5 separate regions of the Homo sapiens genome follow, and regions 1, 3, 4 and 5 are each linked to region 2. The links come from fine-mapping of genetic effects on gene expression. A gene starts in region 2. Each other region holds a variant in brackets. All regions are shown on one strand. Distances are between the middles of the regions. Region 1 overlaps TACC2 (transforming acidic coiled-coil containing protein 2). Region 2 holds the start of TACC2 (transforming acidic coiled-coil containing protein 2). Region 3 overlaps TACC2 (transforming acidic coiled-coil containing protein 2). Region 4 overlaps TACC2 (transforming acidic coiled-coil containing protein 2). Region 5 overlaps TACC2 (transforming acidic coiled-coil containing protein 2).

What was found.
Region 1: its variant is fine-mapped to the expression of TACC2 in anterior cingulate cortex (GTEx, PIP above 0.99). The same link has a PIP of 0.9 or more in prefrontal cortex.
Region 3: its variant is fine-mapped to the expression of TACC2 in tibial nerve (GTEx, PIP 0.99).
Region 4: its variant is fine-mapped to the expression of TACC2 in skeletal muscle (GTEx, PIP above 0.99).
Region 5: its variant is fine-mapped to the expression of TACC2 in sun-exposed skin (GTEx, PIP above 0.99). The same link has a PIP of 0.9 or more in unexposed skin.

The regions. Positions count from the first base shown.
Region 1 is chr10:122,023,579-122,030,005 of GRCh38, forward strand. All of the region lies in intron 2 of TACC2 (transforming acidic coiled-coil containing protein 2), which reads left to right. Among named protein-coding and RNA genes, the nearest start is that of TACC2, 38 kb to the left of the region's middle. The variant C/G (reference allele first, on the strand shown) is at 3,856.
Region 2 is chr10:121,985,555-121,991,981 of GRCh38, forward strand. It overlaps TACC2 (transforming acidic coiled-coil containing protein 2), which reads left to right and starts at 3,609. Exons shown (of 23, transcript NM_206862.4): 1 at 3,609-3,934.
Region 3 is chr10:122,163,563-122,169,985 of GRCh38, forward strand. All of the region lies in intron 7 of TACC2 (transforming acidic coiled-coil containing protein 2), which reads left to right. Among named protein-coding and RNA genes, the nearest start is that of BTBD16, 100 kb to the right of the region's middle. The variant A/C (reference allele first, on the strand shown) is at 2,654.
Region 4 is chr10:122,075,322-122,081,748 of GRCh38, forward strand. All of the region lies in intron 3 of TACC2 (transforming acidic coiled-coil containing protein 2), which reads left to right. Among named protein-coding and RNA genes, the nearest start is that of TACC2, 89 kb to the left of the region's middle. RefSeq lists an enhancer at 1,783-2,284. The variant C/G (reference allele first, on the strand shown) is at 3,742.
Region 5 is chr10:122,082,710-122,089,136 of GRCh38, forward strand. TACC2 (transforming acidic coiled-coil containing protein 2) reads left to right here. Exons shown (of 23, transcript NM_206862.4): 4 at 1-5,250; 5 at 5,769-5,882. Among named protein-coding and RNA genes, the nearest start is that of TACC2, 97 kb to the left of the region's middle. RefSeq lists an enhancer at 2,757-3,258. The variant G/A (reference allele first, on the strand shown) is at 2,987.

The DNA of each region.
Region 1 (6,427 bases), 38 kb after region 2:
GGTGGGAATTGAACGATGAGAAGACTTGGACACAGGATGGGGAACATCACACACTGGGGCCTGTCGTGGGGTTGGGGGAGGGGGAGGGATAGCATTAGGAGATATACCTAATGTAAATGACAAGTTAATGGGTGCAGCAAACCAACATGGCACATGTATACATATGTAACAAACCTGCACGTTGTGCACATGTACCCTAGAACTTAAAGTATAATTAAAAAAAAAAAAAAGAAATCCTGAGGGGGGGGAAAAAAAAAGACTGGGTGTGAGACAACAGGGACAGGCAAGTGCTCTGGCAAACAGGGAGTTCTTGTCCTACTGTCTTAAACAGGGAAGCCACCATCAGCTCCAGTGGGTGATTGCCTTGTGGGAAGGTGGTGCCAATGTTCTGAGTTCAAAAGAACTTGGAAACCCATATTTTTCTATGAAATGTTAAGTTTTTAAATTAAACTTATTATTTTGAGATATTAGTAGATTCACATGCAGCTTAAAGAAACAATGCAGAGAGCCCAAGTACGGCGGCTCATACCTCTAATCCCAGCACTTTGGGAGGCCGAGGCAGGAGGATAGCTTCAGTCCTGGAGTTGAAGATTAGTCTGGGCAACATAGGGAGACCCCATCTCTACCAAGGAAAAAAATTAGCTGGGTGTGGTGGTGCACACCTGTAGCCCTCACTACTCAGGATGCTGAGGTGGGAGGATTGCTTAAGCCTGGGAGGTCAAGGCTGCAGTGAGCCATGTTTGCACTACTACATTCCAGCCAGGTCAACAGAGCAAGACCCTGTCTCATAAAGAAAGAAAGAATACAGAGAGGTCCCATGTACCATTACTTAGTTTTCCTCAAGGGTAACATCTTGCCAAACTATAATGCAATATCACAACCTGGATACTGACACGGATACAGTCAAGATAACAGACCATGCCCGTCACCAGGGGATTACTCTTGTTGCCCTTCTGTAGCCACACCCACCTCTCTCTCCTCTCATCCCTAACCCCTGGCAACCACTATTCCTATTCCCTATTGTTCCCTATTTCTATAATTTTATCATTTCAAGAACGTTATATAAATGGAGTCACACAGTAAGTGATCTTTAAGGATTGGCTTTTTTTCTCTCTCAGCATAAATCTCTTGAGATTTATCCAAGTACTGTGTGTATCAACAGTTCATTCCTTTTTATTGCTGAATAGTATTCCAGGAATAGATGTACTGTACATTTTGTGGAACCATTCATCCATTAAAGCTCATTTAGGTTGTTTCCAGTTTTTGTCTTTTACAGATAAAGCTGTCATGAACATGTGTGTGCAGGTGTTTTTTGAGAACACGCATTTTCATTTCCCTAAGATAAACGCCCAAGTGTGCAGTTGCTGGGTTGTATGATAGTTGCATGTTTAGTTTGATATGGAGCTGACAAACTTTTCTAGAGTTGCTAAAGCATTTTTCATTCCCACCAGCAACGTATGAGGGATCTGGTCTTTGGACCCTGGCTGTCATTTGGTGGTGTCACTTTTTGGTGTTGCTATTCTGATAGGTGTGTTGTAATATTTCCATGTGGTTTTCATTTACATTTTGATGATGGATAAAGATGTTGAACACATTTCATGTGCTTATCTGCCATCTACATATTCTCTTTGGTGAAAAATTGCTTTATGCCTTTTGCCCATTTTCTAACTAGATTATTATTATTCATATATATATTTTTTGAGACAGAGTCTTGCACTGTCAGCTGGGCTGGAGTGCAATGACATGATCTTGGCTCACTGCAACCTCTGCCTCCCAGGTTCAAGCAATTCTCCTGCCTCAGCCTGCTGAGTAGTTGGGATTACACGCGCATGCCACCATGCTTGGCTAATTTTTTTGTATTTTTAGTAGAGACGAGGTTTCACTATGTTGGGAAGGCTGGTCTTGAACTCCTGACCTCGTGATCCGCCCACCTCAGCCTCTCAAAGTGCTGAGATTACAGGCTTGAGCCACTGCACCCGGCCTATTATTTTTATTTATTTTATTTTTTTTTTTGAGATGGAGTCTTGCTCTGTTGCCCAGGCTGGAGTGCAGTGGTGCGATCTTGGCTCACTGCAACCTCCGCCTCCCAGGTTCATGCCATTCTCCTGCCTCAGTCTCCCAAGTAGCTGGGAGCTACAGGAGCCTGCCACCATGCCTGGCTAATTTTTTGTATTTTTAGTAGAGATGGGGTTTCACTGTGTTAGCCAGGATGCTCTCAATCTCCTGACCTCGTGATCCACCCGCCTCGGCTGCCCAAAGTGCTGGGATTACAGGCGTAAGCCACTGCACCCCGGCCTATTATTATTATTATTTTTTAAAGAGTTTTCAGAGTTCTTTATATAGTCTAGATACTAATCCTTTGTCAGCTCATAGTTTGCAGATATTTTCTTCCATTCTGTAACATGTCTTTTCGTCCTCTTAAGAGCATCTTTTACAGAGCAAAAGAGTATAATTTTGAGGCTGGGTGCAGTGGCTCACGCCTGTAATCCCAGCACTTTGGGAGGCCAAGGCAGGCGGATCATGAGGTCAGGAGATGGAGACCATCCTGGCTAACACGGTGAAACCCCGTCTCTACTAAAAATCCAAAAAAAAAAAAAAAATTAGCCGGGCATGGTGGGGGGCATCTGTACTCCCAGCTACTCGGGAGGCTGAGGCAGGAGAATAGCATGAACCCGGGAGGCGGAGCTTGCAGTGAGCTGCACTCCAGCCTGGGCTACAGAGTGAGACTCTGTCTCAAAAAAAAAAAAAAAAAAAAAAAGTATAATTGTGATGAGGTACAGTTGATCAGTTTTTGCTCTTAGGGGTGCTGCTTTTGGTATCAAACCTAAGAACTCTGCCTACACCAACATCCTGAAGATTTTCTGCTATTTTTTTTTTTGGCTAAAAGTTTTGAAGTTTTACATTTTATTTTTGAGTGCATGATTCATTTTGAATTAATTTTTGTGTGAGGTACACGATTTAGGTATTGCACATTTTCTGGGTTTGGACAAAGGAATAGTATCATGCAGGGTAGTTTCACTGCCCTAAAAATCCTCTGGACTCCACCTACTCATCCCTCCCACACCTCTCAATCCCTGGCAACCATGAATCTTTTTACTGTCTACAGGGTTTTTGCCTTTTCCAGAATGTCATACGGTTGGATCCTACAGTATGTAGCCTTTTCACATTGGCTTCTTTCACTCAGTAATGTCCATTTAAGGTTCCTGCATGTTTTTTCATTGCTTTGTCATTGCTTTTTAGCACTGAATAATTTTCCATTGCCTGAATGTACCGGTTTATTGATCTACTGAATAACATCTTGGTTGCTTCCAAGTTTTGGTGATTATAAATAAAACTACTATAAACATCTATGTGCGGATTTTTGTGCAGACATTGTTTTCAGCTCCTTTTGGTAGATACCAGCGAGCGTGATTGCTGAATCATATAGGAGTATGTTCAGTTTTGTAAGAAACCACCAAACTGTCTTTCAAAGTGGCTGTACCATTTTGCGTCCCTACCAGCTGTGAATGGGAGTTCCTGTTCCATATCCTCCCCAGCATTTGGTGGTGTCAGTATTCTGGATTTTGGGTCATTCTGATAGGTATATAGTGGTATCTTGTTGCTTTAATTTGCATTTCTCTGTTGACATAGGATGTGGAACATCTTTTCATACACTTATTTGCCATCTGTATATCTCATTTGGTGAGGTGTCCGTTCAGGTCTTTGGCCCATTTTAAAGTTAGGTTGTTTGTTTTCTTATTATTGAGTTTTACAAGTTTCTTGTATATTTTGGATAAAGTGTGCCTTTTGCGAATAATTTCTCCCTGCCTGTGGCTTGTCTTCTTATTCTCTTGAGGTTGAGATTCATTTTTGTGT[C/G]TGTGTATTTTTTTTTAACCTACGAATGTCCATCTTTCTAACAACATTTGTTAGAGTATTCTTCCTCCATTAAACTGTTTCTGCACCTTTGTCAGCAATCAGCTAGGCATATTTGTGTGGCTCTGTTTCTGGGTTTGCTATTCTTGTCCATTGATTATCTTGATTACTGTGGCTATATAATAAGGCTTGAAATCAGGTACAGTGAGTCTTCTCATTTTATTCTTTTCTAAAATTGTTTTTGCTGTTCTTGCACCTATGACGTTCCCTATTAATATTAGAATAAATCTATCCATCTCTACACAATACTTTCTGGGATTTTTTTTTTTTTTTGACAGAGTCTCACTCTGTTGCCCAGGCTGGAGTGCAATGGAGTGATCTCGGCTCACTGCAAGCTCCGCCTACCAGGTTCACGCCATTCTCCTGCCTCAGCCTCCCGAGTAGCTGGGACTACAGGCGCCTGTCACCATGCCCAGCTAATTTTTTGTATTTTTAGTAGAGACGGGGTTTCACCGTGTTAGCCAGGTTGGTCTCGATCTCCTGACCTTGTGATCTGCCCTCCTCGGCCTCCCAAAGTGCTAGGATTACAGGCGTGAGCCACTGCGCCTGGCCCATTGTTTTCTTTTCTTTTTTTCTTTTTTCTTTCTTTCTTTCTTTTTTTTTTTTTTTTTTTTTGAGATGGAGTCTCACTCTGTCACCCAGACTGGAGTGCAGTGGTGTGATATCTCAGCTCACTGCAACCTCCAGTTCCTGGGTTCAAGCGATTCTCCTGCCTCAGCCTCCTGGATAGCTGGGATTACAGGTGCATGCCACCATGCCCGGCTAATTTTTGTACTTTTAGTAGAGACAGAGTTTCACTATGTTGGCCAGGCTGGTCTCAAACTCCTGACCTCAGGTGATCAGCCTGTCTCGGCCTCCCAAAGTGTTGGGATTACAGGCGTGAGCCACCACACCAAGCCTATTTTATTTTTCATTATCATTTTTTGTAATCTTCAACATATAGATCCAGCATATATTTTATGATGTTTATACCTAAGTATTATGTTTTCTTTGGAGTGACCGTAAATGGTGTCATGTTTTTAAATTTGCTATTCATGTGTTCATTATTAATGTATTGATTTTTGCATGCTGATTTTGTATCCTGTGACCTTGCTGAACTCACTTATTAGTTCCAAGAAGTTTGTTTGTTTTTGTAGATTTCTTGGGATTTTTCTATGTATGTAATCACGTTATTTGCAAATAGGGGCTGTTTTATTTATTTATTCTTTTCCCATCCTGTATACCCTTCCTTCCTTCCTTCCTTCCCCCTCCCCTCTCCTCCCTTCCCCTTCTGTTCCCTTCCCTTGCCTCCGCTCCCCTCCCCTCCCCTCCTCTCCCCTCCCCTTCTGTTCCCTTCCCTTCCCTCCGCTCCCCTCCCCTCCCCTCCTCTCCCCTCCCCTTCCCTTCCCTTCCCTCCGCTCCCCTCCCCTCCTCTCCCCTCCCCTTCCCTTCCCTTCCCTCCCCTCGCCTTCCCTTCCCTTCCCTTCCCTTCCCTTCCCTTCCCTCCCCTCCCCTCCCCTCCCCTCCCCTCCCCTCCCCTCCCCTTCCCTTCCCGTCTTTCTTCTTTATTACAGTGGCTGGGACTTTCAGTCCTGTGTTAAACAAGAGCGGTGAGAGGGGACATTTTTCCCTGGTTCCTAGTCTGAGGAGGAAAGCATTCAGTCTTTCACTGTTAAGTAAGATATTAGCTGTAATTTTGTTGTTAAACATAATGCTTGTAATCAAGTTGAGGAAGTTCTCTATTCCTAGTTTGCTGTGGGTTTTTATCATGAATGAGTGTTCGGTTTTGTCAGATGCCGTCTCTGCATCAATCGATGTAATTGTATGATCTTTCTTCTTTGGCCTGTTGATATATTGAACTACACTGATTGATTTTCAAATGTTGAACCAGCCTGGTATAATTATTTTTACACATTGTTGGATTCAATTTGCTAACACTTTGTTGAAGACTTTTGTATCTAAATTCGTAAGAAATATTGCTCTGTAGTTTTCTTTTATGTCTGGTTTTTGTATCAGGGTAATAGTAGCCTCACAAAATGAGTTGGGAAGTGCTTGCTCCTGTTCTGTTTTCTAGAAGAGATTGTGTAAAGAAATCTTACATTTTAAAAAAATGTTGGCAACTAATTTCAATTATTTTTAAGCACTCTATGGGCCAAACGAATGTGCCTGCTGGCTGGGGTTGGCTTCGGGCACGCCTCCCAGTAATTTCCACTTAAAGGAATGTTCTGTCTTGTGTTTTAGAGTTGAGAAGGGCATAGCTATCGGGTGAGCGCCCTCAATGTGCACAGTATGGGCCACTAGGCATATTTTGGCCTTTAGTCCTGCTCATTAACAAACCAAGCAGCTCAGGTTCAACCCCTTCTTTGGGGTCTTAGGGATGCTTTTGGACCTCAAGCTCCCTGCAGGCCCCACTACTGGCTGCAAACAAGATAGAGCGGTGGGCAGGGGGTGGGGAGGGTGGGAGGTGTGTGATTTTGTGCTTCAGGGGACATTTAGCAATGTCTCAGGACAGTTTTTGTTGTCACAACTCAGAGAT
Region 2 (6,427 bases):
CTCCTTTTTTTTTCCCCTAGAGATCTCCATCCCAGGGCCCTGTGTCTGCCCACTTCAATTTGGATGAGCTGTTATTCCAGTCTTGCTACACAGTTGTCACCATGGGGTTTCCCTTTACTGCCATCCTTGGTTAAACTCATTGCTTTCTGGATTCCATGTTTAAAACTTTTGTTTCGTTTATGCCCTGGTTTTGCTGAGGTATTTTCTTAGAAGAGATGTAAAGCAAGCTAGTTTTATGAGTCTAAAAAATGTCTTTATTTTTCTTTTCCATTTAGTTGAAGATTTGACTGGATATAGAATTTTGAGCTGAAACTAATTTTTCATCAGGAATTTAAAAGCATTGTTCCATTGTCTGCCTGAAATGGATTCTTTCTTTTTTTTTTTTTTGAGATGGAGTCTCACTTTTGTCACCCAGGCTCTAGTGCAATAGTGTGATCTCGGCTCACTGCAACTTCCGCCTCCCAGGTTCAAGCAATTCTCCTGCCTCAGCTTCCCGAGTAGCTGGGATTACAGGTACGGGTCGCCATGCCTGGCTAAGTTTTGTATTTTTAGTAGAGATGGGGTTTCATCATGTTGGCCAGGCTGGTCTCAAACTCCTGACCTCAGGTGATCTGCCCGCCGCGGCCTCCCAAAGTGCTGGGATTCCAGGCATGAACCATCATGCCCAGCCAAGATTCTGATCCAGCATTCACTCAACAAACATTCCAAGTATGTTCTAGGCACTAATGATACAGGTGCTCCCTGTAAATTCTTCATAAGTTAAAAGTATTGTAAGTTGAAAATGCATTTAACACACCTAACCTACTGAACATAGGGATATGGGAGTTAAGAAGAAATTACTTGGGCAGATAGTGAGGGTACGGAAGTCCTTGGTAAGGCTTTTATCCTTAATGAAAAGCAGCCCCAAATTGTTTTTTAACAAAGAGCAGCCTATAAAGTTGAGCTGCAGATATAAACAAGCAAGCTGGGAGCTTGCACAGGTGAATGCCGGCAGGAGCTAGGGACTATATGTGTTCAAGATGGTGGCTCTGTCTTCCTTTCTCTTTGTCGACCACCATACAATGTATTAAAGAGCAGTCAAGATAGTGCTGATCAACTGGAGAGTCCATTTACATAATAAGATTAGGGTGGGGCAGCCAGTCTTCCTCGCGGGCTATGTAAATGTCATACCTGATGGTACCAATCTATGAGGTCTGCGTAAATCAGACACCACCTTTTCCAGCCTGCCTATAAAATCTGCTGCGGTCCGCCGCCTCCCGTTTTGGACTTCTCTCTCTCTCCTTTCTTCTATTAAGTTTTCTACTTCTTAACCCACCCACGTGTGTCTGTGTCCTGAATTCTTTCTCATTGTGAGACAAGGAACCCCAGCATAAATACTCTAGACAATGTAGCTGTTAAAGTAGCATAGCCTAGCCTACCTAAAACGTGCTGAGAACACTTGCATTAGCCTACAGTTGGGCAAAATCACCTAACACAAAGCCTAGTTTGTGACAAAGTGTTGAATCTCATAGAATTTATTGAATACTGTACTGAATTTGAAAAACAGAATAGTTGTTTGAATACTCAAAGTACAGTTTCTGCTGAATGCATTCTCTCTTTTGAGCCATCTTATGATAAATCTACATCAAATTATTGTTATGTTAGGGAAGGAAACTGCCTTTGCAGAACTGACAGTAACAGAAATGTGACATGGTTGACTTCATCTTGCTTCTGACCTCCAAGCTGTCCTTGGTTATTCCTGGGCATAGGCCAAGCTAACTTTGGGAGGAATTCAATTTATAGTTTAATTTGAAAGTAAAGATTATAATAGTCCCTCCCTAAAACTAACCCCCTCCTTTCTCAGGGACCAAAATCGCCTTTGTAAGACTAATGAAAGGCCACAGGAATAGGATAATGGGAGAAGGCAGAACTCTGCTAAAATGTAGGCATAGTTTCTATAGTCCCTTAATGCCCAGGGGTCATGTGGCCAGAGTTCACAAGATCTGTGACTTTCCCAATTGCTCCTGTAAGTAACATCACTATTGTAGAACTTAAGATTGGGGTGTTTGTTTGTTTGTTTGTTTTTGTATTTTTAGTAGAGACGGGGTTTCACCATCTTGGCCAGGCTGGTCTCGAACTCCTGATCTTGTGATCCACCCACCTGGGCCTCCCAAAGTGCTGGGATTACAGGCGTGAGCCACCGCGCCCAGCCAAGATTGAGTTTTTTAAGATGTTTTTCAGACTGACCTCACTCAGACTCATGACTCATGACTCAACAGGTCCTGGGGCCCCACCCAGAGGCAGACTCAGTGCATGAGGACTGCTTTCCACACCGGTATGATTTCATCCCCAACCAATCAGCGGCACTATCCCCCTACCCCCTGACAACCAAATTGTCCATAAAAACCCTTGTTCCGAGCCTACAGGGAGACTGATCTGAGGGATAACTCCAGTTCTCCCACGTGGGCTCAGCCTCGCGGCAGTTAAACTCTTTCTCTATTGCAATGCCATGGTCTCAGTGAATTGATTTTTGTCTGTGCAGTGGGGAAGAAGAACTTGTTGGGTGGCTCCAGAACCATCTGTATAATGATGAATAAGACAAAGTCCCTACTCTCATGGAGGAGACAGATAATAAAGAAAAGAAAAAAAAAGGATTTGGTCATTGTAAGTGCTATGAAGAATTTAAATAGGCTAAAGGGATAGGTGGAGAATAGAAGTTGCATTTTTTCTTTCCCTCCAGATAGAGTCTCACTCTGTCACCCAGGCTGGAGTGCAGTGGTGCGATCTTGGCTCACTGCAACCTCCACCTCTGGGTTCAGGCAGTTCTCCTGCCTTAGCCTCCTAAATAGCTGGGATAGCAGGCACCTGCCACCACGCCCGGCTAATTTTTGTCTTTTTAGTAGAGAGGGGGTTTTACCATGTTCGCCAGGCTGGTCTTGAACTCCTAACCTCAAGTAATCCACCCACCTCGGCCTCCCAAAGTGCTGGGATCACAGGCATGAGTCACTGTGCCCGACCTGAAAGTTGCTATTTTAGGTGTGATGAGCAGCACAACATCTTTCCTGAGGAGGTGACATTTGAGATGTGACTTGAATTGTGAGGAGTAATGTGTCATGCAAAAATACAGGGAAGTCATATTGTAGTCAAAGGCAATAGCAAAAAAAAGTCTTTGGGGTTAAAATAAGTCTGACACATTCAAGAAAGTTCAGAAAGGCATACATACCTGTGTTAGAGTAGGTAGCTAGGGGAACATGAGAAGGGCAGCAGAGGGCATTCCACCCCCACCCCCAACCAGGAATGTCAGGCGACCATCATGTGATGGTCAGGTGGTTGTTACACTGTTTCTCTAAAATCATCATTGGTTGCAGCCAGCACCAGGGAAAGGCCGGCTCCCAATAGATAGAAAACACCTGAAGCTAGTGTCAGCCGCTTCCTGATAAGATCTCAGGAGTTGGGCAAGTGGGCTCAAGCATGGGCCCTAAGGGGCAAAATGTCAGAGTTTAACTAATATATGACCTTCCTCTAGGAATTCTCGACTGGCAAGGGAAAAATGCCTCAAATGAGCACGCGCACAACTTCAGTAAACACACTGTGAGTGCGGCCACTCCCAAGTGCTGGCAGACCACTGCATAAGTGGACAGCCTGCTCCAAGGGAAGGATCAGGAGAGAAGAAACGCAAATCCCAGAACCGTGCCAACATATAAAACCCCACATTAAGGGTTGTACAGTGCACTGGGATTTCTCAAGTCACCCGCTTGGTCCTCTTCCAAGTATACTTTACTTCCTTTCATTCCTCTCTAAAACTTTTTTAAAAACTTTCACTCCTGCTCTAAAAGTTATCTTGGTTTCTTACTCTACCTTATGCCCCTTGGGCGAATTTTTTCCTCTGAGGAGGGAAGAATAGAGTTGCTGCTGCAGACACATCAGATTCCCTACTGGTAACAGCTGGAGTGCGGTAAGTAAGGAGGAGAGGGCTGGAAAATGAAGTTGGCTCTGATTCCCATTACTTGAAAATACAGGGTAGGAAAACCCTATCTTCTTAGGTTCAGTGGCTGGGGAGCACCATCACTCAAGGTGAGAACTGCCTGGCTGAGCCCAGCCAACTCACAGAACTGTATGAGGTATTTTCATCTACTGTGCTAGGCACCTAGTGAGAGCCCTTTTGCGTCTTTCAACTTTGGAAAAAATTATGATTTATTTTTATTTTTTAAATTAATTTTATTTTTTTTTTTTATGTTTTTAGAGATAGGTTCTTACTCTGTCATCCAAGCCAGAGTGCGGTGGCATGATCATGGCTCACTGTAGCCCAGAACTACTGGGCTCAAGTGATTCTCCTGCCTCAGCTTCCCAAGCAGCTGGTACCACAAGCACATGCCAGCATGTGCAGCATGGGAAATATTTTTATGTTACCACCTCGACACTTTCTTCCTTCTACTTTTCTGTGTCATGTCTGCATCTCCCGTCACTTAGATAGGGACCTCACAGTTTGATTCTCCAGACCTTTAATATTTTTTCATATTTTAAATATTTCTTTAATTCTGTTTTTTGAGATATTTTATTAAATTTACCTTCAACCTTCTGTGGATTTTTTTTTTTAGACAGGGTCTTGCTCTACTGCCCAGGCTGGAGTGCAGTGGCATAATGATGGTTCATTGCAGCCTCGACCTCCCGGGCTAACGCAATCCTCCCACCAGGAGCAATCCTCTCAAGTAGTTGGAACTACAGGTGCATGCCACTAAATTCAGCTAATATTTTTTATTTTTTATAGAGATGGGGGTCTCGCCGTGTTGGCCAGGCTGGTCTCAAACCCCTAGGCTCAAGTGATCCTCCTGCCTCAGCCTCCCAAAGTGCTGGGATTATAGGTATGAGCCACCAAACACTGCCAGAATTTTAAATATCAGGATATAGGAAAGGTTTTGCTTTCGTTTTCAATTTTGTTTTTGTCTTATGGCACGGGGCCAGGCAGGGCAAAGGGTAGATTCCATTGACACTTATTTTTAATTTTCTGCCCAAGTACGTTCCCACCATTGTTCCTGGTGTTTCAGACCCTCTCCAGGGTCTGCAGAGTCTTGTTTGGCTGGAGCCCCTTCTACTCTAGTCTAATGCCCCTCTGCCCTAATTCCTCAACTACCAGGCCGTCACTGCTTTCCATTACCCACAACCATGGAGAAAGCTCTCATCAGCTAATGTGCCTTCTCCAGTTTGCCACATTATTACATTATTGTCTGGACATACCTGTTTTTTTGTTGTTGTTGTTTGTTTGTTTGTTTTTGAGACAGGGACTCGCTGTGTTACCCAGGCTGGAGTGTAGTGTTGCCTTCTCGGCTCACTGCAACCTCTGCCTCCCAGGTTCACTCGATTCTCCTGCCTCAGCCCCCTGAGTAGCTGGGATTACAGGCACCTGCCACCACGCCCAGCTAATTTTTGTATTTTTAGTAGAGATGATTTTGCCATATTGGCCAGGCTGGTTTCAAACTCCTGACCTCAAGTGATCCACCTGTCTCAGCCTCCCAAAGTACTGGAATTACAGGTATGAGCCACTACGCCTCATCTGGACCTACTTGTTTTTAAAAATGCCTTTGTTATCATTTTAATGAAGTCTCTTAAAGGAAAGGAGTTGCATTTGTGTGTTCTGTCTTCTTCAGTAAAGAGAGGGCTTTTATTTATTTATTTTATGTATGGAGATAAATGAACCTTAAACATTGTATATTTTTATTTTTATAAATCCACCTGTTTACTGTCATTTCAAACATTACTTTAAATTTATTTTCCCCTCAGAGCTTTTAAATAATCAGGAGCTCTAAGCATTGCCTGGGAAATGTTTTGTTTTCTTTGCGCTGTCCGCCACATGCTAGTGATTTTCAGCAAGGTTGTGTTTACGTGTATTTCAACTGGGCAAATAGGAACTAATATGAAATAAAATAACATTAATCAAACCTGACTTTATGAGCAAGTTTTGAAATAGTTCACATCTCAAATTAAAAATAAGTCTTTTTTGCTAATTAATGAATGAATGTTTTGGTCAAGAATCATTTCAAAGCTGAGCAGCTGAGTGAATGATAGAAACTGCACTCACACTGTTGCTGTATGGTGGCACCATCTCAGCCGGTATACAGAGATGTCTGCAGGTTTTCATCAGGATCATGGGAACTGCACTGTTGTTTACAGACATTGGAACTCTGACTTGTGACTTTAGTGTAATTTAAAACTTTTTTATATCTCAAAGCCATTTGCATTAGTCCATTTTCATGCTGCCGATAAAGACATGCCCAAGATGGGCAATTTACACAGGAAGAAGGTTTAATGGACTCACAGTTCCGTGTGGCTGGGGAGGCCTCATAATCATGGCAGGAGGCAAGGAGGAGCAAGTCACATCTTACATGGATGACAGCAGGCAAAGAAAGAGCTTGTGCAGGGAAACTCCCCTTATAAAATCATCAGATTTCGT
Region 3 (6,423 bases), 180 kb after region 2:
CATCGTGTCACACACAGGAGCCGGCTGCCGGGGGGTTTAAGAGAAGAGCCTTTCGGACCACACCGGCGCTCACGCTCATACCCGCACGCCCCGGGCAGAGCCGCGCACGCCGGCCACACTCGGGCGCGCGCCGGCCACACTCGCGCGCACACATACGCGGCGCTCGCCCCCCGGCCCCCGGCTCGGGCCGCGAGTCGCAGCTCCCTGCCGCCGCTCCCGCCGCCACGGATGCCCGCAGCTGCTCCCCTCTGCAGTGCAGCAACCCCGGCCGCCGGCCGGCTCGCCCCGGCTCCCGGCTGCAGGAATCGCGCCAGGACGCTGGCCCCGCTCGCGGCTAGCTTGCACGCCAGGGCACAGCGAGGATGGGAGGGTCGCAGTCCCTGCAGCCAGCCCCAGCCAGCGACCTGAACCTGGAGGCTTCCGAGGCAATGTAAGTGCTCCGCCCGGGCCGCCCCGAGTCTCCCGGGGAGGAGGAGAGGATGCCCGGGCTTTGTTAGTGTCGCCTTTCCTAATGCCTGTGCAACCTGGAGCCCAGGCTGGCCTGGGGTTCTTCGCAGCCTTGGAAAGCTTTACCTGGGGCTGCTCTGGGAGGAGCATCTGGTAGCCCCAAGTTACTGCTGTGGGCAGAAACGATTCCCTGGAATTCAGTTTTGGTCGCTCAGCAGTGGGTGCATGGCTGGGGGGCTTCTCCTGCCGTCAGCATCTTTCCTCTGCACCCCCGGCACAGTGGTATTTCCTGCAAGGGAACAGCCAGGCATCAGCGACTGCCTCCTCCTAGGAAGAACCCATGAGCGTGGCAGCTCCGTGCCCGGGGCGACAGCCCAGTTTCCGGGCAGCTGCGCTTGTGGCTGGGCAGATGGCGTGGTGCGCTCTGGTGGACGTTCCGTCTAGTTAGCCTAAGCATCATCCACATACTCTGGTGAACACTCGAGGACAAGGCCGCTTGCTATTATTAGTAAAGGGCCGAACCGTCCTGTCATTGGTGGAGGCAGTGCTTGACTGTGCATCGATCCAGGAATCCGATCTTTTCTCTCAACCACAGAGCTAACGTGCTCAGAAGTGGCCTTTATCCTGGCCGAGTGTTTATTAGAATTCACGTTTCTGTTATGGTCGTCTCCATTACCTACCCAGGCATGTTTGGACGATGGGGCGTATTGAATGGGTCTGCCGGCCGGGTCGCATTTCAGCAACTCAGGCTTGTATCCAAAGTGGACCTCCCAGCCTCACCTGCCCCCACTTTTCCAGAGAGAAGACTATGTTTCAGAGAAGAGTATTTTCTGGGGACTTGGGGGTAGGGGTAGTAAAGTGGGTTCTTAAGAGTCATGGATGTGTAGATTAAAAGATGGTGGGGATTGATCTGTGTGTTGTAGGAGGGATGGGGCCCCGGGGGGTACTTCCTCACTGGTCCCTCGACCCCTGGGCTTCAGTGAGGAGCTGGCTCGGCGTAGTGATGTAATGCTAGGCTGAGCCTCGTGGTTTTCTGGGCTCCAGCTCTTTAGCAGGGAGTCATTCTTCCGAGCAGGTGTGCACCCATCATTTGTCTTCACCCCTGTAGCTTGAGAAAGCATCGTCTTACAATGGAGGCACATCGCGTTTGAGGATTTTCTTTTTAAATGTTATGATCCTTGTGCTGTGCCTGCCTTGTTTCTCATGCACGTGTAGTGTTGCTAGGTGCATGGAAATACAACTCGAGTCTAGGCAGAAAAGAACCACTTTAACCTATTTTTTGCAAGTCCCTATAGTGGAATTGAGTTAATCAGTGACAGGCACTGGCCAACTCTCACGGCTCAGACCTATCTAGTGAAGAGCTTAGGAAACAGAAAGGACAATGTGACTGTACGTTTGGGAAAATGTGCTCCTCAGTCATTGGAAATTCAGCTCGCCGGTCCCTAACGTCCCCGCCCTCTTTTTCAGCTGAGTTAATAAATGATCAGTGTTCCGTCAGCTGAGGGCCGAGTTTAGATAGCTTCTGTTAGGTAGCTGTGCCTTTTTGGATAAGGTCCCTTAAGGTTCTGCCCACTGGGATAGTGGTGTTTAAATAAAATTTCAGGCTGAATGGCCACATTGTGATGGAAGCTGTTTATCAAATATTTTCACAGTTGAGTTGGTCCATATGCCCCCGCCTGAGGCTTCTCTCCCTAGAACTGCTGCCTCTGAAATGTCTCTAAATATAGATCTTTACGATAGTATATTCACTCATTCACAAAATCCCACCCTCCATCCCGTAACATTTTTGTTCTAAAAAAATGGAGAGAGAGGAAATATTTGGGGCCAGTGCCATTGCTAGCATCTGTCCTCTTCAAAACCCGTCTCTGCTCTCTGAATAACTGGGGCTTATTTTTCTAGTGCAGATGTGCTCTTTCCCAGTCTAGAGGTTTTAAAAATATATATTCGGAGAGTGCCTCTTTTCTGCCCAGGCACAGGTCTTTCTTGGTAGTATTTCCATGCAGCTAAAAATGCATGCACGTGAATAATACACAAGACAGCAACAGAGTGTGGGGCCCATGGCAGGAAAGAGGTTGCATTGTAAGATGATGCCGTCAGGGCTGCAGGGATGGTGACAAACACAGGGTGCGCACCTGCCGCGGGGGACAGCTCCTGACAACCGGAATCTAGAGTGAATGTTTCCCTTTTTCTCTGCTGGTTCCCTGTG[A/C]AAGACTGGCTTAAGGAGGGCCATGGTGTAAGAGTGAAATCAAAAGATAGAGGATTTGGAAGTGACTGAAGGATTTTTTTTTAATTTAAATTTTTTAGTTTTAAGATTTCTTTCCTTCCAATTGCAGGTTTGGGGTGCCTTTGGGCAGCTTTTGTAGCTCCAGCTGACAGCTTCATTCTATGCAGGAGTGCATTGGGCTAGGGAGGGAGCGACTTTTGTATCTCCCCTTTTGAGAACTCAGGCATCAAGATTGGAGTAGCAGAAGTCCCATGGGACTGGGGATTGAAGCCTGAGGATGAAGGTGCAAATGGTGACCAGTCTCTTGCTACTCCCAGGGTCGGCCACACATGACAGCATCAGCTTCCCAAAGGGGCTTGCTAGAAACGCAGAGCCTCAGACCTCACCCCAGACCAGCTGAATCAGAATCTCCATTTCATCCAGGGACTTGTAAAGATGCCCAGGTGATTTGTAGGCATCTCAAAATTTGAGAAGCCATGAGCTGGTTCAGTCTTCCCTCCATCCTGTCCATGAGAAACAGCTGGCCACTTCTCTGACTGCTCCTTTCCTATCTGGCAAAGAAGTTCTTGTAGCAATAGTGACCATTTGTTTCTAAATAGAATATGAGTAGCAAGGGGAGGGAGAATTCTCCCACAGAAAACACTTATTTCTCAGTATGGATGGTAGGAGACACAGGAATGGACAGGAAGTACTTGAGTAAATGTGGGCTGCAGCTATTGATCAGACCTGCTGTTCATCCCTTGATTCTGTGGCAGCCCCATGTGGTGTGGCTTCTGCTAAGTGGGGCAGCATTAAGTACTTTGTCCTTTATGTAGTTGGAGACCCCCGTTTCAGGGGTTCCCTCAGCTTCCACCAAATCCCCACACCCTGGCCACTGAAAACCACCCAGGGGGCCATTATCAGAGAGCAAAAGCGGTGGTTCTGTTGGCAAAGTCGGCCTGCCCCGACTGTTGCCCTACTCTCAAAGTGAGCACGTGCCCTTGGCTCTAAAAAACAAATCACAAATATGGAAACCCATACTCTGTAGACCTGTGGATCGAAGTAGAGGGGCCAGGGTGGATGGGAGAGAAGCGATGGAGGAGGAAGCAACAGGCTCTGTGATTGATGAGATGGGGGAGGGAAGAGAAGAGACAGTGGCAAGTACAAAATGGAAGTTTCATACCCTGGTAACTAAGAGAAAGAAGTGGCATTGGCCAAGACAGACAAGAAAACTGGATTGGGAGCTAGTTCGGGGAAGTTGATGAGTTGGCTGAGATTTCAGAAGTGGGTGGGATCAGATGTAGCTGGAGAGAGGCCAGGCAAAAGAAGGATCTCGGGTACCACCGCAGTAGGTAGAGAGATTGGAGCTCTCCACACATCTGTGGTTAGAAGTGGGGTTCTGGTCCCTTCCCTTATGTGGTTCCTGACCTTTTCTTTGGGAGCTGTAGAGAAAATCCGATGACTCTGATCCTGCCCCTCCTGCCTCGCAGGGTTTTTCAGAGGTGAGATGCCACATCTGCAAAGACTCTTGAGAAGACGTAAGTGCCAGAAAACTGCAAAAGTGGAAATGCCCTATGCCTGAAATTGCCAGCCTCTCAGTCACTCAGAAGGCCAGAAACGGTCGCTGGGGCTCTAAGCAGGACTCTTTCTTTAGCTCTCATTAGATCTTTTTCTTTTTCTTTCTTTTTTTTTGAGACAGTGTTTCACTCTGTTGCGCAGGCTCATATGTAACAGTGTGATCACAGCTCACTGCAGCCTCCACCTTCCGGACTCAAGGGATTTTCCTACCTCATCCTCTCAAGTAGCTGGGACTATAGGTACACATCACCATGCCCAGCTTTTTTTTTTTTTTTTTTTTTTAAATAATTTTTTGTAGAGACAGGGGCCTTGCTATGTGGCCCAGGCTGGTCTCTAACTCCTGGGCTCAAGTGAGCCATCTGCTTCAGCCTCCCGAAGTGTTGGGATCACAGGCATGAGCCAGCGCACCCAGCCATAGATCTTTTTCAAGGCTTTGTTTCTTGGGGCAGCCCTTGGCTAAATGCTTTAGCTTAAACGACAGCATTCCTAATGTGAGTTGCAGCCAGTTTCTGAGTTCCTGGACGGAGATTTTACTTTGGATATTACTGTTGGACACAATAGAGTTTTTTCTCCCCTAAAATAGAATAAGCTGCAACATTATCTGTAGAGTGGGAGGGGGAGATTGATTCCCAAAGGAAGCTTGGGTGCATTTTTCCCTGCCATTATTCCTAGATATCACCAGCGTGGCCCTGTGCCTGTGTTCATAAGGGTCCTGGGCCTTCACTATCTTCTCTGGGGGACTTGCCTGGAGGCTTTCTCTTAGGTGGGCTGAAGGCAAATATATTCCGAGGTCCTCCAGGTAGCTACCAATCATCCAAGGGGCCATGCCATGCTAGGGCCCTGGGACAGGGTACCCTGTCGAGGATGGGGTGAACAGCTAGGACTTGGATACTGATTGAGTGTGGCACTGCAGGTGAACATCAGATCAAGGTCAGTGGATTCTGGGTTGCTCTTCCATCGACCCTCCCATTCCCATCCCTGTGTTTCTTTCCACTGTCTACAGCCTGTTTCTGTGGCTAGATTTTTGGTTGCCTAGGAAACAACTTTATTCTGAAACATGATTGGCTGTTCTTGCAGATGGATTACCCAAGCTAGGGCAGTGTTCTGGGGTAAGCAAGTGATGCTGAACAATTCTGTTTCTTCCCTTTAAGATTAATGGTGAGGACTTAGGCATTGTAAGCAATTGTTCTGTGAAAACCAATTGTTCATGGACTGATGCTTTGTTTCAGGTTGGACAGGGGTTTAGGGGAGACTGGTTGGCCACAAAGAACTGACTGAGTCAGAACTGCTCACACACATCTATCCTGTGTTGGAAGCAGTAGCTCAGATGACATTTCTGTTTATATTTACAAATTCACTTTAGCAGTTGTTTCTGGAGTGCAGGTGTGTGCTGTTTAAACGCCATTGCCAAATATGGAAACAGCTGGATGCTGCAGTGTTGAAGCCAGGAGTGAAAAGCCCACTGAGCAGGCTCAGATTCAGCAGAAACTCTTGTGTACCATGTCTGTGTGCTAGGTTTTTTTCATTATAGAAATAATTATATCCCTTAATCCTGCAAGGTGGGTGACTTCTATAGATAAGGAAACTGAGTCCTCTGGATGGTTTAAATTAAGGGAGCAGTAAACTTTCTGTAAAAGACCTCATAGTACATATTTTAGGCTTTCTGGGCCATTCCGTCTTTGTGCAGCATCTCTGCTGTTACAGTTCAAAAGCAGCCAGAGACAACATGTAAATCCATGTTCCAGTAGAGTTTTAGTTGTAAAAACAGACTGCAGGTTGTAGTTTGCTGATTCCTGGTTATACGGATGATTGGTACAGGGCTCAGACTTATGTCCCCTTTGGCCTGGGCAATCTTTGTTTTCTGTTCTCTCTCTCTAAGACATCTCATTTATGCTCATGGACTTAAATAATATGTGCCGATAATGCCCCAATTTATAGCCTTCCCTCTCATCTGAGCACTGTAATTTTCCTTTTTTTTGAGACAGGGTCTCGCTCTGTCACCCAGACTGGAGCACAGTGGCACAATCATGGCTCACTGCAGCCTTCATCTCCCAGGCTCAAGTGATCCTCCTGCCTCAGCCTCCCGAGTAGCTGGGAATACGGGTGCACGCCACCATGCCTGGCTAATTTTTAAATTTTTTGTAAAGACAGGGCCTCCCTATATTGCCCAAGCTGGTCTTGAGCTCCTGGGCTCA
Region 4 (6,427 bases), 90 kb after region 2:
TGCAGGTGCCATGAAGGATGGGGAAGGCTGGCCCAGGGAGCTCGTCACGTGGCAAATAGCTGCGAGAGGAGAAGGGGCTGCATTGTGGTAGTTCATCTCAAGGACCTCGAACACCTTAACCCCACCCATGGGGAAACTGGACTCACGGGGGCTGGCTCTCCCCATATCACCACTCGGAGAAATCTCCTCCAATGGACGTGACCATAAGGGGGCAAAGAATATGGCAGAAGCATCATACTTCACTGAGAACTCAGAAGTGTTGGGAAAGTCTCTAATTTGAGGGCCCAGGCAGGAATGTGGGGAGCTGGGGATCACCTTTCAGTCCTCGAATCCTCTCATCTCCACCACAGCTGCTGCCTCTGTTAACATTTATTTGAGTTGGCAGTTCTCAGAGGCTAGTCAGTCTTACTTAGTCTGTGTTCTGTTGCTTATCGCAGAATACATGAAACTGGAGCATTTATAAAGAAAAATAATTGATTTCTTTTTTTTATTGTTGAGACAGGGTCTTGCTCTGTTGCCCAAGGCTGGAGTGCAGTGGCATGATGTCAGCTCATGGCAGCCTCCGCCTCCTGGATTCAAGCAATCCTCCTGCTTCAGCCTCCCAAGTAGCTGGGATTACAGGTGCCTGCCACCACAATTTTTGTATTTTTTTATTTTTAGTAGAGACAGGGTTTCACCATGTTGGCCAGGCTGGTCTTGAACTCCTGATCTCAGGTGGTCCGCCCACCTCGGCCTCCCAAAGTGGTGGGATTACAGGCGTGAGCCACTGCACCTAGCATTGATTTCTTACGGTTATGGAGGCTGAGAAGTCCAAGGGCAAGGGGCTGCTCCTGGTGAGGGCATTCTTGCTGGTGGGGCTTCTGTAGAGTTATGAGGTGGCGCAGGACATCACTGGTAAAAGAAATGAGCATACTAGCTCAAGTCTCCCTTCCTCTTTGCATAAAGCCACCATGATAACCCAGTAATCCATGAATGGATTAACCTATTCCTGAGGGCAGGGCCTTCACAACCCAATCACCTTCACCTCTTAAAGGCCCCCACCTTTCAACATGATTAAGTTTGGGGATTAAGTTTCAGCGGGAGTTTGAAGGGGAAAACATTCATTCAATCCATTGCACTAACCCACTGGCTTTCATTCTACCCCGGCTTTCCTTTTCCAGAAGGCACACCGGAATGCAACGAGTAGCAGTGATGATGTTATGTTAGGAAATCTTCTAATCTTTTGAATTATAGTAATTTATGAAAATAACAAATCATTCACAGGCTTTAGTACTTTATAATTAGTCACAAATTACTTGCAGTGCATGCCCTGACACATTAGACCTACCAGTGAGTGTAGAGGTGTGTGATTGAGAAGTGCTGCCTTAACTTTGTTTCACAGAAGTATTAAAAAAAAAAAAAGTACTTTGCCTTTTCTGGGCCTCAGTTTCCTCATTTGTAAAATGAGAGGTTTGGACTAATGAATTACTGGAATGCTATGCTTGATGGAAGAAAAGAATGTTCATGATCTGGGCCGGGTGCGGTGGCTCATGTCTATAATCCGAGCACTTTAGGAGGCTAAGGCGGACGGATCACTTGAGCTCAGGAGTTCGAGACCAGCCTGGCCAACATAACAAAACCCTATCTCTACTAAAAATATGAAAATTAGCTGGGCATGGTGGCAAAGGCCTGTAATCCCAGCCACTCGGGAGGCTGAGACACGAGAATTGCCTGAACCCAGGAGGCGGAGGTTGCAGTGAGCAGAGATTGCGCCACTGCACTCCAGCCTGGGTGACAGAGTGAGACTCTGTCTCAAAAAAAAAAAAAAAAAAAAGAATGTTCATAATCTTCTAGTGAAACAACCACGATTTGGGTGCATCTCTGTATATTTAGTATCCTTGATTTGGGTTCAGTTGTTTCTGTCCATCCTTCTAGCCATCCATCCTGGCACTCACTCGTACATTCATATATCAACAACATTTTATTGTTTGTTATATGCCAGGCACCAGGGATATGATATTGAAAGGAGACTAGGACCTGGCCTCCATTACACTCCAATAGGGAAAACAGTCACCAACCATAGTGATGGGAACCATGACTAGCGCTAGGTGGGCCTGTGAAAGAAACTGATCTGGGAGCCCAGGCCAGGGAGGCTACCCTGAGAAGCGAAGAGTGGAGCTGCAACCTGGTGGGGAGCAGAGGGCTGCAGGCTCCAGGCAGATGCATGGCTGGGGAGCTTCATGCGGAATGAGGCAGGAGAGGGAGGTTGGGGCCACAACTGAGAGCAAAGCGAAGCCACAGTGGGGTGACAGGAGCAGACTTTGATTTCTAAGCTGTTGGTCTGGCCACAGCTGGCAGAACAGAATGAAGGGGGCCAGAGAGGATGGGAGAAGGGAATGCTGCACTTGTTCGGTGAGAGGCTGGTGCAGGCAGCCAGTACAAGGCAACGGGAGGCAGCGCCACAGGGCTCAATCTTGCTTTGCGTTACCGGCTCTTTGACCCTGGGTCCTGTCTTGAACTTCTTCGGGAAAATGTCCTTGTGTGTACAATGGGGCCACCCTTCTACCAGGCTGTTGTGTGGATTAAGCGCAATCGTAACTGAAAAGTGCCCAGGCCAGGCTCAGTGGCTCACTCCTGTAATCCCAACACTTTGGGAGGCCGAGGCGGGCAGATCACCTGAAGTCAGGAGTTAGAGACCAGCCTGGCCAATATGGTGAAATCCCATCTCTACTAAAAATACAAAAATTAGCCGGGCATGGTGGTGCACGCCTGTAGTCCAGGCCACTCGGGAGACTGAGGCAGGAGAATTGCTTGAACTCAGGAGGTGGAGGTTGCAGTAAGCTGAGATTGTGCCACTGCACTCCAGCCTGGGCGACAGAGCGAGACTCCATCTCCAAAAAAAAAAAAAAAAAAAAAAAAAAAAAGTGCCCAGAGGGTCTGGCCTGAGTCAGTGTTTAGTACATGGCAACTCTCTATCTTTACGGCTTTGCTTTATGGTTTTGCCGACTCCTGAAAACCTGGTCGTGCAGGGGCCATGTTTGTGTTTTCTGTAGCTGGCCTCCTTCCTCCCTTTAAGCATTGCATGTGTGTGTGTTTCCAGAACTATGCATTTAAGAACCCATCTGCATCCCCATCATCTGCTCAGACCTTGGTTGTGGCAGATGACCCCCTGCCAGCCCCTGCCCATGCTTCTCCCTTCACTGTGCTGTGTACATCTGGTCTGTGATGGAGGCTCTAGTCCCTGGGCCCTCCCTGACCTCCACACAGAGGCAGTGCCCCCAGAGGGTGAAAGGCTTCCATTCGGGGTGCTGGCCTGCGGATTCTGAGCAGAGGCTCTATCCCACACATTTCAACTCAATCTCGAAGCATAAAAGGATATTATGTAAGCTTCAACTAATGCACAGCCCTCAACAGATCAGTTCTTAGAATTTTTCCTGCCCTTAGGCAGATCTGCTCCTGGTGAGCAGCTTTAATCTGGCTTTAAAAATTACTTCTGATGGATAATCAAAGAGATTGCTGGTACCCAGCTTATGCTAAATAAACCAATGTCTGGGTTCTTATTTGGGAGGAGTTGTTGTGTGTCCCATACTCCATGGAAAATTTGTTCCTGGTTGCTTTCTGATAAGACCGCACAAGTTTACAAGATGCCAAAATATAATTTATCATCTTGTTCCAGATGGTAACGACTTCAGCCAGCCTGAAGGGAAGCCACATCCTTTCCTAAGTTGGCAGTTCCTGTCAGAGGCGTGGACAAGAAAGTGG[C/G]TTCGTTTCTTTCCAGCTTGATAAAGCCGACATAAATAGGAGCACTTCATTTCTGAATTACACACCATTACTCTTATCACATACTAAACTGTTTGACTTCAGTTAATGGGTGGGACATAATGAAATGTAAAGTGCTTGTTACAAGGAAAATTGCCAGGTCCAGATGCTGAGCAGCGAAGGGTGGGGGAGGAGGCATCGGGTTTCGTTCTGGACCTGGTGCTTTCCAGAAAGCCAGGCCAAGACACTTTATCCAAACCCCAAGTAGTTTTCCAGATGTCAGCCCACTCGGGCCAGGGCTCTCCATGGGCCCATCTGTCTTCCGTGACCATTTGTGAATCGGAGGGTTTTATATAATTTACCCTCTGAGTTTTCTCTTTTTTGGCCTACTCAGCTCTGCTTTTGGGTCAGAAAATGCAAATCTGGTTGAGACAGTAGCCAGCTCTCTTTTGGGTCCTCAGGCACCATTCCCATGTCCTATGTGCAGGAACAGGCATTAGATAAAGATGAGTGCAGGGGTGGTTCTGTGTACATGCCTCCTTCAGGGATGTCAAATGACGCCGCGTGTACTTCAGAGGTGAGGAGCAGGACAGAGAGGCTGGAATGGGGCTGGGGGAAGAGGCTCTTGCCTTCCTTGGAAGTTTTTATTCTGCATAGCAGAGTGAATAAGAAGATTGTGTCCAGTGGAATCAGATGTCCATGTTGAGATCCATGCTTAGCCTCTGTTCTCCAGGGTTCTCATCTGCAAATGGCATGGGTGGTACCCACCTTGCACAGCTGTTGGCAGGGCTAAATGAGATAATCCACACAAAGCACTGAGGCCTAGTGAATTTCATCTGTTATTATTTTCCCAACTTTTTGTTTTGGAAAAACTGAAACCTCAAAAATGTTGAAAGGATGGGACAGTAAATACCCACCTGTCTATGGTATTAGTCTGCTCGGGCTGCCATAAGAAAACACCACAACTTGAGTGACTTAAAATACAGAAATGTATTTTCTCCTGGTTCTGGAGGCTGGAAGTCCTGGTCAGGGTGCTGGTGGAGTTGGTTTCTGGTGAGGCCTTTCTTCCCAGCTTGCAGAAGACACCTGCTTTTGATGTTCTCACATAGCTTTTCCTTTGTGTATCTGCATTCCTGGTGTCTCTTCCTTTCCTTTTTTTTTTTTTGTTTTTTTTTTGTGTTTTTTTGTTTTGAGACAGAGTCTCACTCTGTTGCCCAGGCTGGAGTGCAGTGACATGTTCTCAGCTCACTGCAGCCTCAACCTCCAGCACTCAAGTGATCCTCCCACGTCAGCCTCCTGAGTAGCTGGGACTACAGGTGTGCACCACCATGCCCAGTTGATTTTCATATTTCTTTTTAGAGATGGAGTTTCGCCATGTTGCCCAGGCTGGTCTTGAACTCCTGAGCTCAAGTGATCTGCCTGCCTCAGCCTCCCAAAATGTTGGGATTACAGGTGTGAGCCATGCACCCGGCCTCTTCCTCTTCTTATAAAGAACACCAGTCCTATCAGATTAGGGCCTCACTACTATAACTTCACTTAATCCCAACTGCCTCCTTAAAGTGCCTGCCTCCAAATACAGTCACATTGGGGATTAGGGCTTCAACATATGGATTTGAGGGGGGCACAGTTCAGTTCATAGCACATATTTTAAAAATTTAACAATAATGCACTTCACCATCTCACTGTATGCATCCCTCATGTATGAATGCATGTGCACTGCCTGGTGTGGAAAACTGGAATTTTGGTAGCGGACATTGAGAGGAGAATCTTTCCACTAGCCCCCTCCAGAACGCTGTGGGCTTATGTGTGTGTGAATATGTGTGCATGTAACAAACAGTTACAAAAAGATTCCATAAATTTTCCTTTGATATTTCCCCTATAATAACTTTAAAGAAAATGGTAAAAGCTTTAGAAAAACCATACTTATGTTAACTTTGTCTTGAGGAATTTCTCTTGTTAATAGAATATATATGATCATAACAAGTATATAGAATCACAATTATGTAAAAATAACAAGAATTGTACCCCCAAACAATTGTGTAGGAAAAATCAGGAAATTCACTAGAACTCTGAAAGTGGCAAGCATGTAGCAGTATTTTTTCTGATTTTTTTTTCCTACATTTTCCACACTTTGTGTTGGCCACATATTATTTTTAAAATTAAAAATTGCACAGCATTGACTAGGCGTGGTGGCTCACGCCTGTAATCCCAGCACTTTGGGAGGCTGAGGCGGGCAGATCACGAGGTTAGGAGATCGAGACCATCCTGGCTAACATGGTGAGACCCCATCTCTACTAAAACTACAAAAAAAAAAAAAAATTAGCTGGGCGTGGTGGCGGGCTTCTGCAGTCCCAGCTACCCGGGAGGCTGAGGCAGGAGAATGGCGTGAACCCAGGAGGCAGAGCTTGCAGTGAGCCGAGATCGCACCACTGCACTCCAGCCTGGGTGACAGAGTGAGACTCCGTCTCAAAAAAAAAAAAAAAAAGGCACAGCATTAAAACTGTGTAGAATTGAGCAACATAGTCCAAATACATCATGTAATAAGCCATTTTATAATAACTGGATAGTTAGTTATCTGTAGTAAGTTCAAAATTCAGAGCCAAGTTCCCCCAAGTTCCCTGAGTGTTTCACTTTTTTTCGCCACACATTACCCAGATAAGTGTTCAAGTTAAGACAAATATGGGTATGA
Region 5 (6,427 bases), 97 kb after region 2:
ATGCCTTGTGTCCCCAGAGGTGACTGAGCCAAGGAAGGACCCACAGGGAGCCAGGGGGCCAGAAGGTTCTTTGCTGCCCAGCCCACCACCGTCCCAGGAGCGAGAGCACCCCTCGTCCTCCATGCCCTTTGCCGAGTGTCCCCCGGAAGGTTGCTTGGCAAGTCCAGCAGCGGCACCTGAAGATGGTCCTCAGACTCAGTCTCCCAGGAGGGAACCTGCCCCAAATGCCCCAGGAGACATCGCGGCGGCATTTCCCGCTGAGAGGGACAGCTCTACTCCATACCAAGAGATTGCTGCCGTCCCCAGTGCTGGAAGAGAGAGACAGCCGAAGGAAGAAGGACAGAAGTCCTCCTTCTCCTTCTCCAGTGGCATCGACCAGTCACCTGGAATGTCGCCAGTACCCCTCAGAGAGCCAATGAAGGCACCGCTGTGTGGAGAGGGGGACCAGCCTGGTGGTTTTGAGTCCCAAGAGAAAGAGGCTGCAGGTGGCTTTCCCCCTGCAGAGTCCAGGCAGGGGGTGGCTTCTGTGCAAGTGACCCCTGAGGCCCCTGCTGCAGCCCAGCAGGGCACAGAAAGCTCAGCGGTCTTGGAGAAGTCCCCCCTAAAACCCATGGCCCCGATCCCACAAGATCCAGCCCCAAGAGCCTCAGACAGAGAAAGAGGCCAAGGGGAGGCGCCGCCTCAGTATTTAACAGATGACTTGGAATTCCTCAGGGCCTGCCATCTCCCTAGGAGCAATTCAGGGGCTGCCCCAGAAGCAGAAGTGAATGCCGCTTCCCAGGAGAGCTGCCAGCAGCCAGTGGGAGCATATCTGCCGCACGCAGAGCTGCCCTGGGGCTTGCCAAGTCCTGCCCTGGTGCCAGAGGCTGGGGGCTCTGGGAAGGAGGCTCTGGACACCATTGATGTTCAGGGTCACCCACAGACAGGGATGCGAGGAACCAAGCCCAATCAAGTTGTCTGTGTGGCAGCAGGCGGCCAGCCCGAAGGGGGTTTGCCTGTGAGCCCTGAACCTTCCCTGCTCACTCCGACTGAGGAAGCACATCCAGCTTCAAGCCTCGCTTCATTCCCAGCTGCTCAGATTCCTATTGCTGTAGAAGAACCTGGATCATCATCCAGGGAATCAGTTTCCAAGGCTGGGATGCCAGTTTCTGCAGATGCAGCCAAAGAGGTGGTGGATGCAGGGTTGGTGGGACTGGAGAGGCAGGTGTCAGATCTTGGAAGCAAGGGAGAGCATCCAGAAGGGGACCCTGGAGAGGTTCCTGCCCCATCACCCCAGGAGAGGGGAGAGCACTTGAACACGGAGCAAAGCCATGAGGTCCAACCAGGAGTACCACCCCCTCCTCTTCCCAAGGAGCAAAGCCATGAGGTCCAACCAGGAGCACCACCCCCTCCTCTTCCCAAGGCACCAAGTGAAAGTGCCAGAGGGCCACCGGGGCCAACGGATGGAGCCAAGGTCCATGAAGATTCCACAAGCCCAGCCGTGGCTAAAGAAGGAAGCAGATCACCTGGTGACAGCCCTGGAGGAAAGGAGGAAGCCCCAGAGCCACCTGATGGTGGAGACCCAGGGAACCTGCAAGGAGAGGACTCTCAGGCTTTCAGCAGCAAGCGTGATCCAGAAGTAGGCAAAGATGAGCTTTCAAAGCCAAGCAGTGATGCAGAGAGCAGAGACCATCCCAGCTCACACTCAGCACAGCCACCCAGAAAGGGGGGTGCTGGGCACACGGACGGGCCCCACTCTCAGACAGCAGAGGCTGATGCATCTGGCCTACCACACAAGCTGGGTGAGGAGGACCCCGTCCTGCCCCCTGTGCCAGATGGAGCTGGTGAGCCCACTGTTCCCGAAGGAGCCATCTGGGAGGGGTCAGGATTGCAGCCCAAATGTCCTGACACCCTTCAGAGCAGGGAAGGATTGGGAAGAATGGAGTCTTTCCTGACTTTAGAATCAGAGAAATCAGATTTTCCACCAACTCCTGTTGCAGAGGTTGCACCCAAAGCCCAGGAAGGTGAGAGCACATTGGAAATAAGGAAGATGGGCAGCTGTGATGGGGAGGGCTTGCTGACGTCCCCAGATCAACCCCGCGGGCCGGCGTGTGATGCGTCGAGACAGGAATTTCATGCTGGGGTGCCACATCCCCCCCAGGGGGAGAACTTGGCAGCAGACCTGGGGCTCACGGCACTCATCCTGGACCAAGATCAGCAGGGAATCCCATCCTGCCCAGGGGAAGGCTGGATAAGAGGAGCTGCATCCGAGTGGCCCCTACTATCTTCTGAGAAGCATCTCCAGCCATCCCAGGCACAACCAGAGACATCCATCTTTGACGTGCTCAAGGAGCAGGCCCAGCCACCTGAAAATGGGAAAGAGACTTCTCCAAGCCATCCAGGTTTTAAGGACCAGGGAGCAGATTCTTCCCAAATCCATGTACCTGTGGAACCTCAGGAAGATAACAACTTGCCCACTCATGGAGGACAGGAGCAGGCTTTGGGATCAGAACTTCAAAGTCAGCTCCCCAAAGGCACCCTGTCTGATACTCCAACTTCATCTCCCACTGACATGGTTTGGGAGAGTTCTCTGACAGAAGAGTCAGAATTGTCAGCACCAACGAGACAGAAGTTGCCTGCACTAGGGGAGAAGCGGCCAGAGGGAGCATGCGGTGATGGTCAGTCCTCGAGGGTCTCGCCTCCAGCAGCAGATGTCTTAAAAGACTTTTCTCTTGCAGGGAACTTCAGCAGAAAGGAAACTTGCTGCACTGGGCAGGGGCCAAACAAGTCTCAACAGGCATTGGCTGATGCCTTGGAAGAAGGCAGCCAGCATGAAGAAGCATGTCAAAGGCATCCAGGAGCTTCTGAAGCAGCTGATGGTTGTTCCCCACTCTGGGGCTTGAGTAAGAGGGAGATGGCAAGTGGAAACACAGGGGAGGCCCCACCTTGTCAGCCTGACTCAGTAGCTCTCCTGGATGCAGTTCCCTGCCTGCCAGCCCTGGCGCCC[G/A]CCAGCCCCGGAGTCACACCCACCCAGGATGCCCCAGAGACAGAGGCATGTGATGAAACCCAGGAAGGCAGGCAGCAACCAGTGCCGGCCCCGCAGCAGAAAATGGAGTGCTGGGCCACTTCGGATGCAGAGTCCCCAAAGCTTCTTGCAAGTTTCCCATCAGCTGGGGAGCAAGGTGGTGAAGCCGGGGCTGCTGAGACTGGTGGCAGCGCTGGTGCAGGAGACCCAGGAAAGCAGCAGGCTCCGGAGAAACCTGGAGAAGCTACTTTGAGTTGTGGCCTCCTTCAGACTGAGCACTGCCTTACCTCCGGGGAGGAAGCTTCTACCTCTGCCCTACGTGAGTCCTGCCAAGCTGAGCACCCCATGGCCAGCTGCCAGGATGCCTTGCTGCCAGCCAGAGAGCTGGGTGGGATTCCCAGGAGCACCATGGATTTTTCTACACACCAGGCTGTCCCAGACCCAAAGGAGCTCCTGCTGTCTGGGCCACCAGAAGTGGCTGCTCCTGACACCCCTTACCTGCATGTCGACAGTGCTGCCCAGAGAGGAGCAGAAGACAGTGGAGTGAAAGCTGTTTCCTCTGCAGACCCCAGAGCTCCTGGCGAAAGCCCCTGTCCTGTAGGGGAGCCCCCACTTGCCTTGGAAAATGCTGCCTCCTTGAAGCTGTTTGCTGGCTCCCTCGCCCCCCTGTTGCAACCAGGAGCTGCAGGTGGGGAAATCCCTGCAGTGCAAGCCAGCAGTGGTAGTCCCAAAGCCAGAACCACTGAGGGACCAGTGGACTCCATGCCATGCCTGGACCGGATGCCACTTCTGGCCAAGGGCAAGCAGGCAACAGGGGAAGAGAAAGCAGCAACAGCTCCAGGTGCAGGTGCCAAGGCCAGTGGGGAGGGCATGGCAGGTGATGCAGCAGGAGAGACAGAGGGCAGCATGGAGAGGATGGGAGAGCCTTCCCAGGACCCAAAGCAGGGCACATCAGGTGGTGTGGACACAAGCTCTGAGCAAATCGCCACCCTCACTGGCTTCCCAGACTTCAGGGAGCACATCGCCAAGATCTTCGAGAAGCCTGTGCTCGGAGCCCTGGCCACACCTGGAGAAAAGGCAGGAGCTGGGAGGAGTGCAGTGGGTAAAGACCTCACCAGGCCATTGGGCCCAGAGAAGCTTCTAGATGGGCCTCCAGGAGTGGATGTCACCCTTCTCCCTGCACCTCCTGCTCGACTCCAGGTGGAGAAGAAGCAACAGTTGGCTGGAGAGGCTGAGATTTCCCATCTGGCTCTGCAAGATCCAGCTTCAGACAAGCTTCTGGGTCCAGCAGGGCTGACCTGGGAGCGGAACTTGCCAGGTGCCGGTGTGGGGAAGGAGATGGCAGGTGTCCCACCCACACTGAGGGAAGACGAGAGGCCAGAGGGGCCTGGGGCAGCCTGGCCAGGCCTGGAAGGCCAGGCTTACTCACAGCTGGAGAGGAGCAGGCAGGAATTAGCTTCAGGTCTTCCTTCACCAGCAGCTACTCAGGAGCTCCCTGTGGAGAGAGCTGCTGCCTTCCAGGTGGCTCCCCATAGCCATGGAGAAGAGGCCGTGGCCCAAGACAGAATTCCTTCTGGAAAGCAGCACCAGGAAACATCTGCCTGCGACAGTCCACATGGAGAAGATGGTCCCGGGGACTTTGCTCACACAGGGGTTCCAGGACATGTGCCAAGGTCCACGTGTGCCCCTTCTCCTCAGAGGGAGGTTTTGACTGTGCCTGAGGCCAACAGTGAGCCCTGGACCCTTGACACGCTTGGGGGTGAAAGGAGACCCGGAGTCACTGCTGGCATCTTGGAAATGCGAAATGCCCTGGGCAACCAGAGCACCCCTGCACCACCAACTGGAGAAGTGGCAGACACTCCCCTGGAGCCTGGCAAGGTGGCAGGCGCTGCTGGGGAAGCAGAGGGTGACATCACCCTGAGCACAGCTGAGACACAGGCATGTGCGTCCGGTGATCTGCCTGAAGCAGGTACTACGAGGACATTCTCCGTTGTGGCAGGTGACTTGGTGCTGCCAGGAAGCTGTCAGGACCCAGCCTGCTCTGACAAGGCTCCGGGGATGGAGGGTACAGCTGCCCTTCATGGGGACAGCCCAGCCAGGCCCCAGCAGGCTAAGGAGCAGCCAGGGCCTGAGCGCCCCATTCCAGCTGGGGATGGGAAGGTGTGCGTCTCCTCACCTCCAGAGCCTGACGAAACTCACGACCCGAAGCTGCAACATTTGGCTCCAGAAGAGCTCCACACTGACAGGTACTTAAATGAAAAAATTCCCACGGGAATGTGTGGTCAGTTTCAAAGGTGATTCCCAGCCTGATTTTTAGAAGTCAGTCGCATAGGTGAGTGGTTTTCTAAAAGCTGAGTTTTCCATATCTAATTGCTAAATGAACCTGCTTACCCCCTCTGGATGTCCTGAGGCTCTGAAAAATGTGAGAACCATGGTTGGAGGCTGGGAGCTGTTGACTATGTTCTTTTTCTTGTGTTCCTTAATTCATCTAACTTAAACCACTGGAAAAGTATCAACTGTTTACTGGCTGGCTGTGTACTATTAAGTGATAGGTTATAGTCAGTCATATATTTTTCTGGAGTCCAGATACATCTGCTTTTGAATCTGGATTTATTTAGTCAGGGGGCCCTTTTTCCTAGGGATTTTTTTTTTTGTAGTAGCCACTTAAAACTTTAATTGAGAAATCTGCTTTTTCAATAGGACATGAGGAGAAATGCCTTACTATCTACATTATCCTATTAATTGCTTTCTTTTATTATCCCAGAGAGAGCCCCAGGCCTGGCCCATCCATGTTACCTTCGGTTCCTAAGAAGGATGCTCCAAGAGTCATGGATAAAGTCACTTCAGATGAGACCAGAGGTGCGGAAGGAACAGAAAGGTCAGCGAAAGATATTGGTCTTTGGAAGGCCATGATGCCTTCCTTAGATACAGACACACTGGATGTTTTGGAAAGGAGAGTAGTCCTTATACAGCATGAGTTCCTACATAAGAAAGAAGCAAATGGCCATTCCCGTTTTATGTACAGGTACAGCAGTACCTGGGATGACTAAAAGCTCCATTGTTGGAAAAGGGATTGAATGAGTTGCTTTCATACTTGAGTTTATTACCTTAAATTTAAAAAGTCAGTCTGGGTGCGGTGGCTCATGCCTGTAATCCCAACACTTTGGGAGGTCGAGGCAGGAAGATCACTTGAGCCCAGGAGTTTGAGACCAGCCACATGGTGAAACCCCATCTTTAGAAAAAATACAAAGATTAGCCGGGCACAGTGGCACGTGTCTGTAGTCCCAGTTACTTGGAAGTCTGAGTTGGGAGGATCGATCGTTTGAGCCCAGGAGGTGAAGGTTGCAGTGAGCCGTGTTTGTGCCACTGCACTCCACCCTGGGTGACAGAGACCCTGTCTCAAAAAAAGAAAAGAATCTTTAT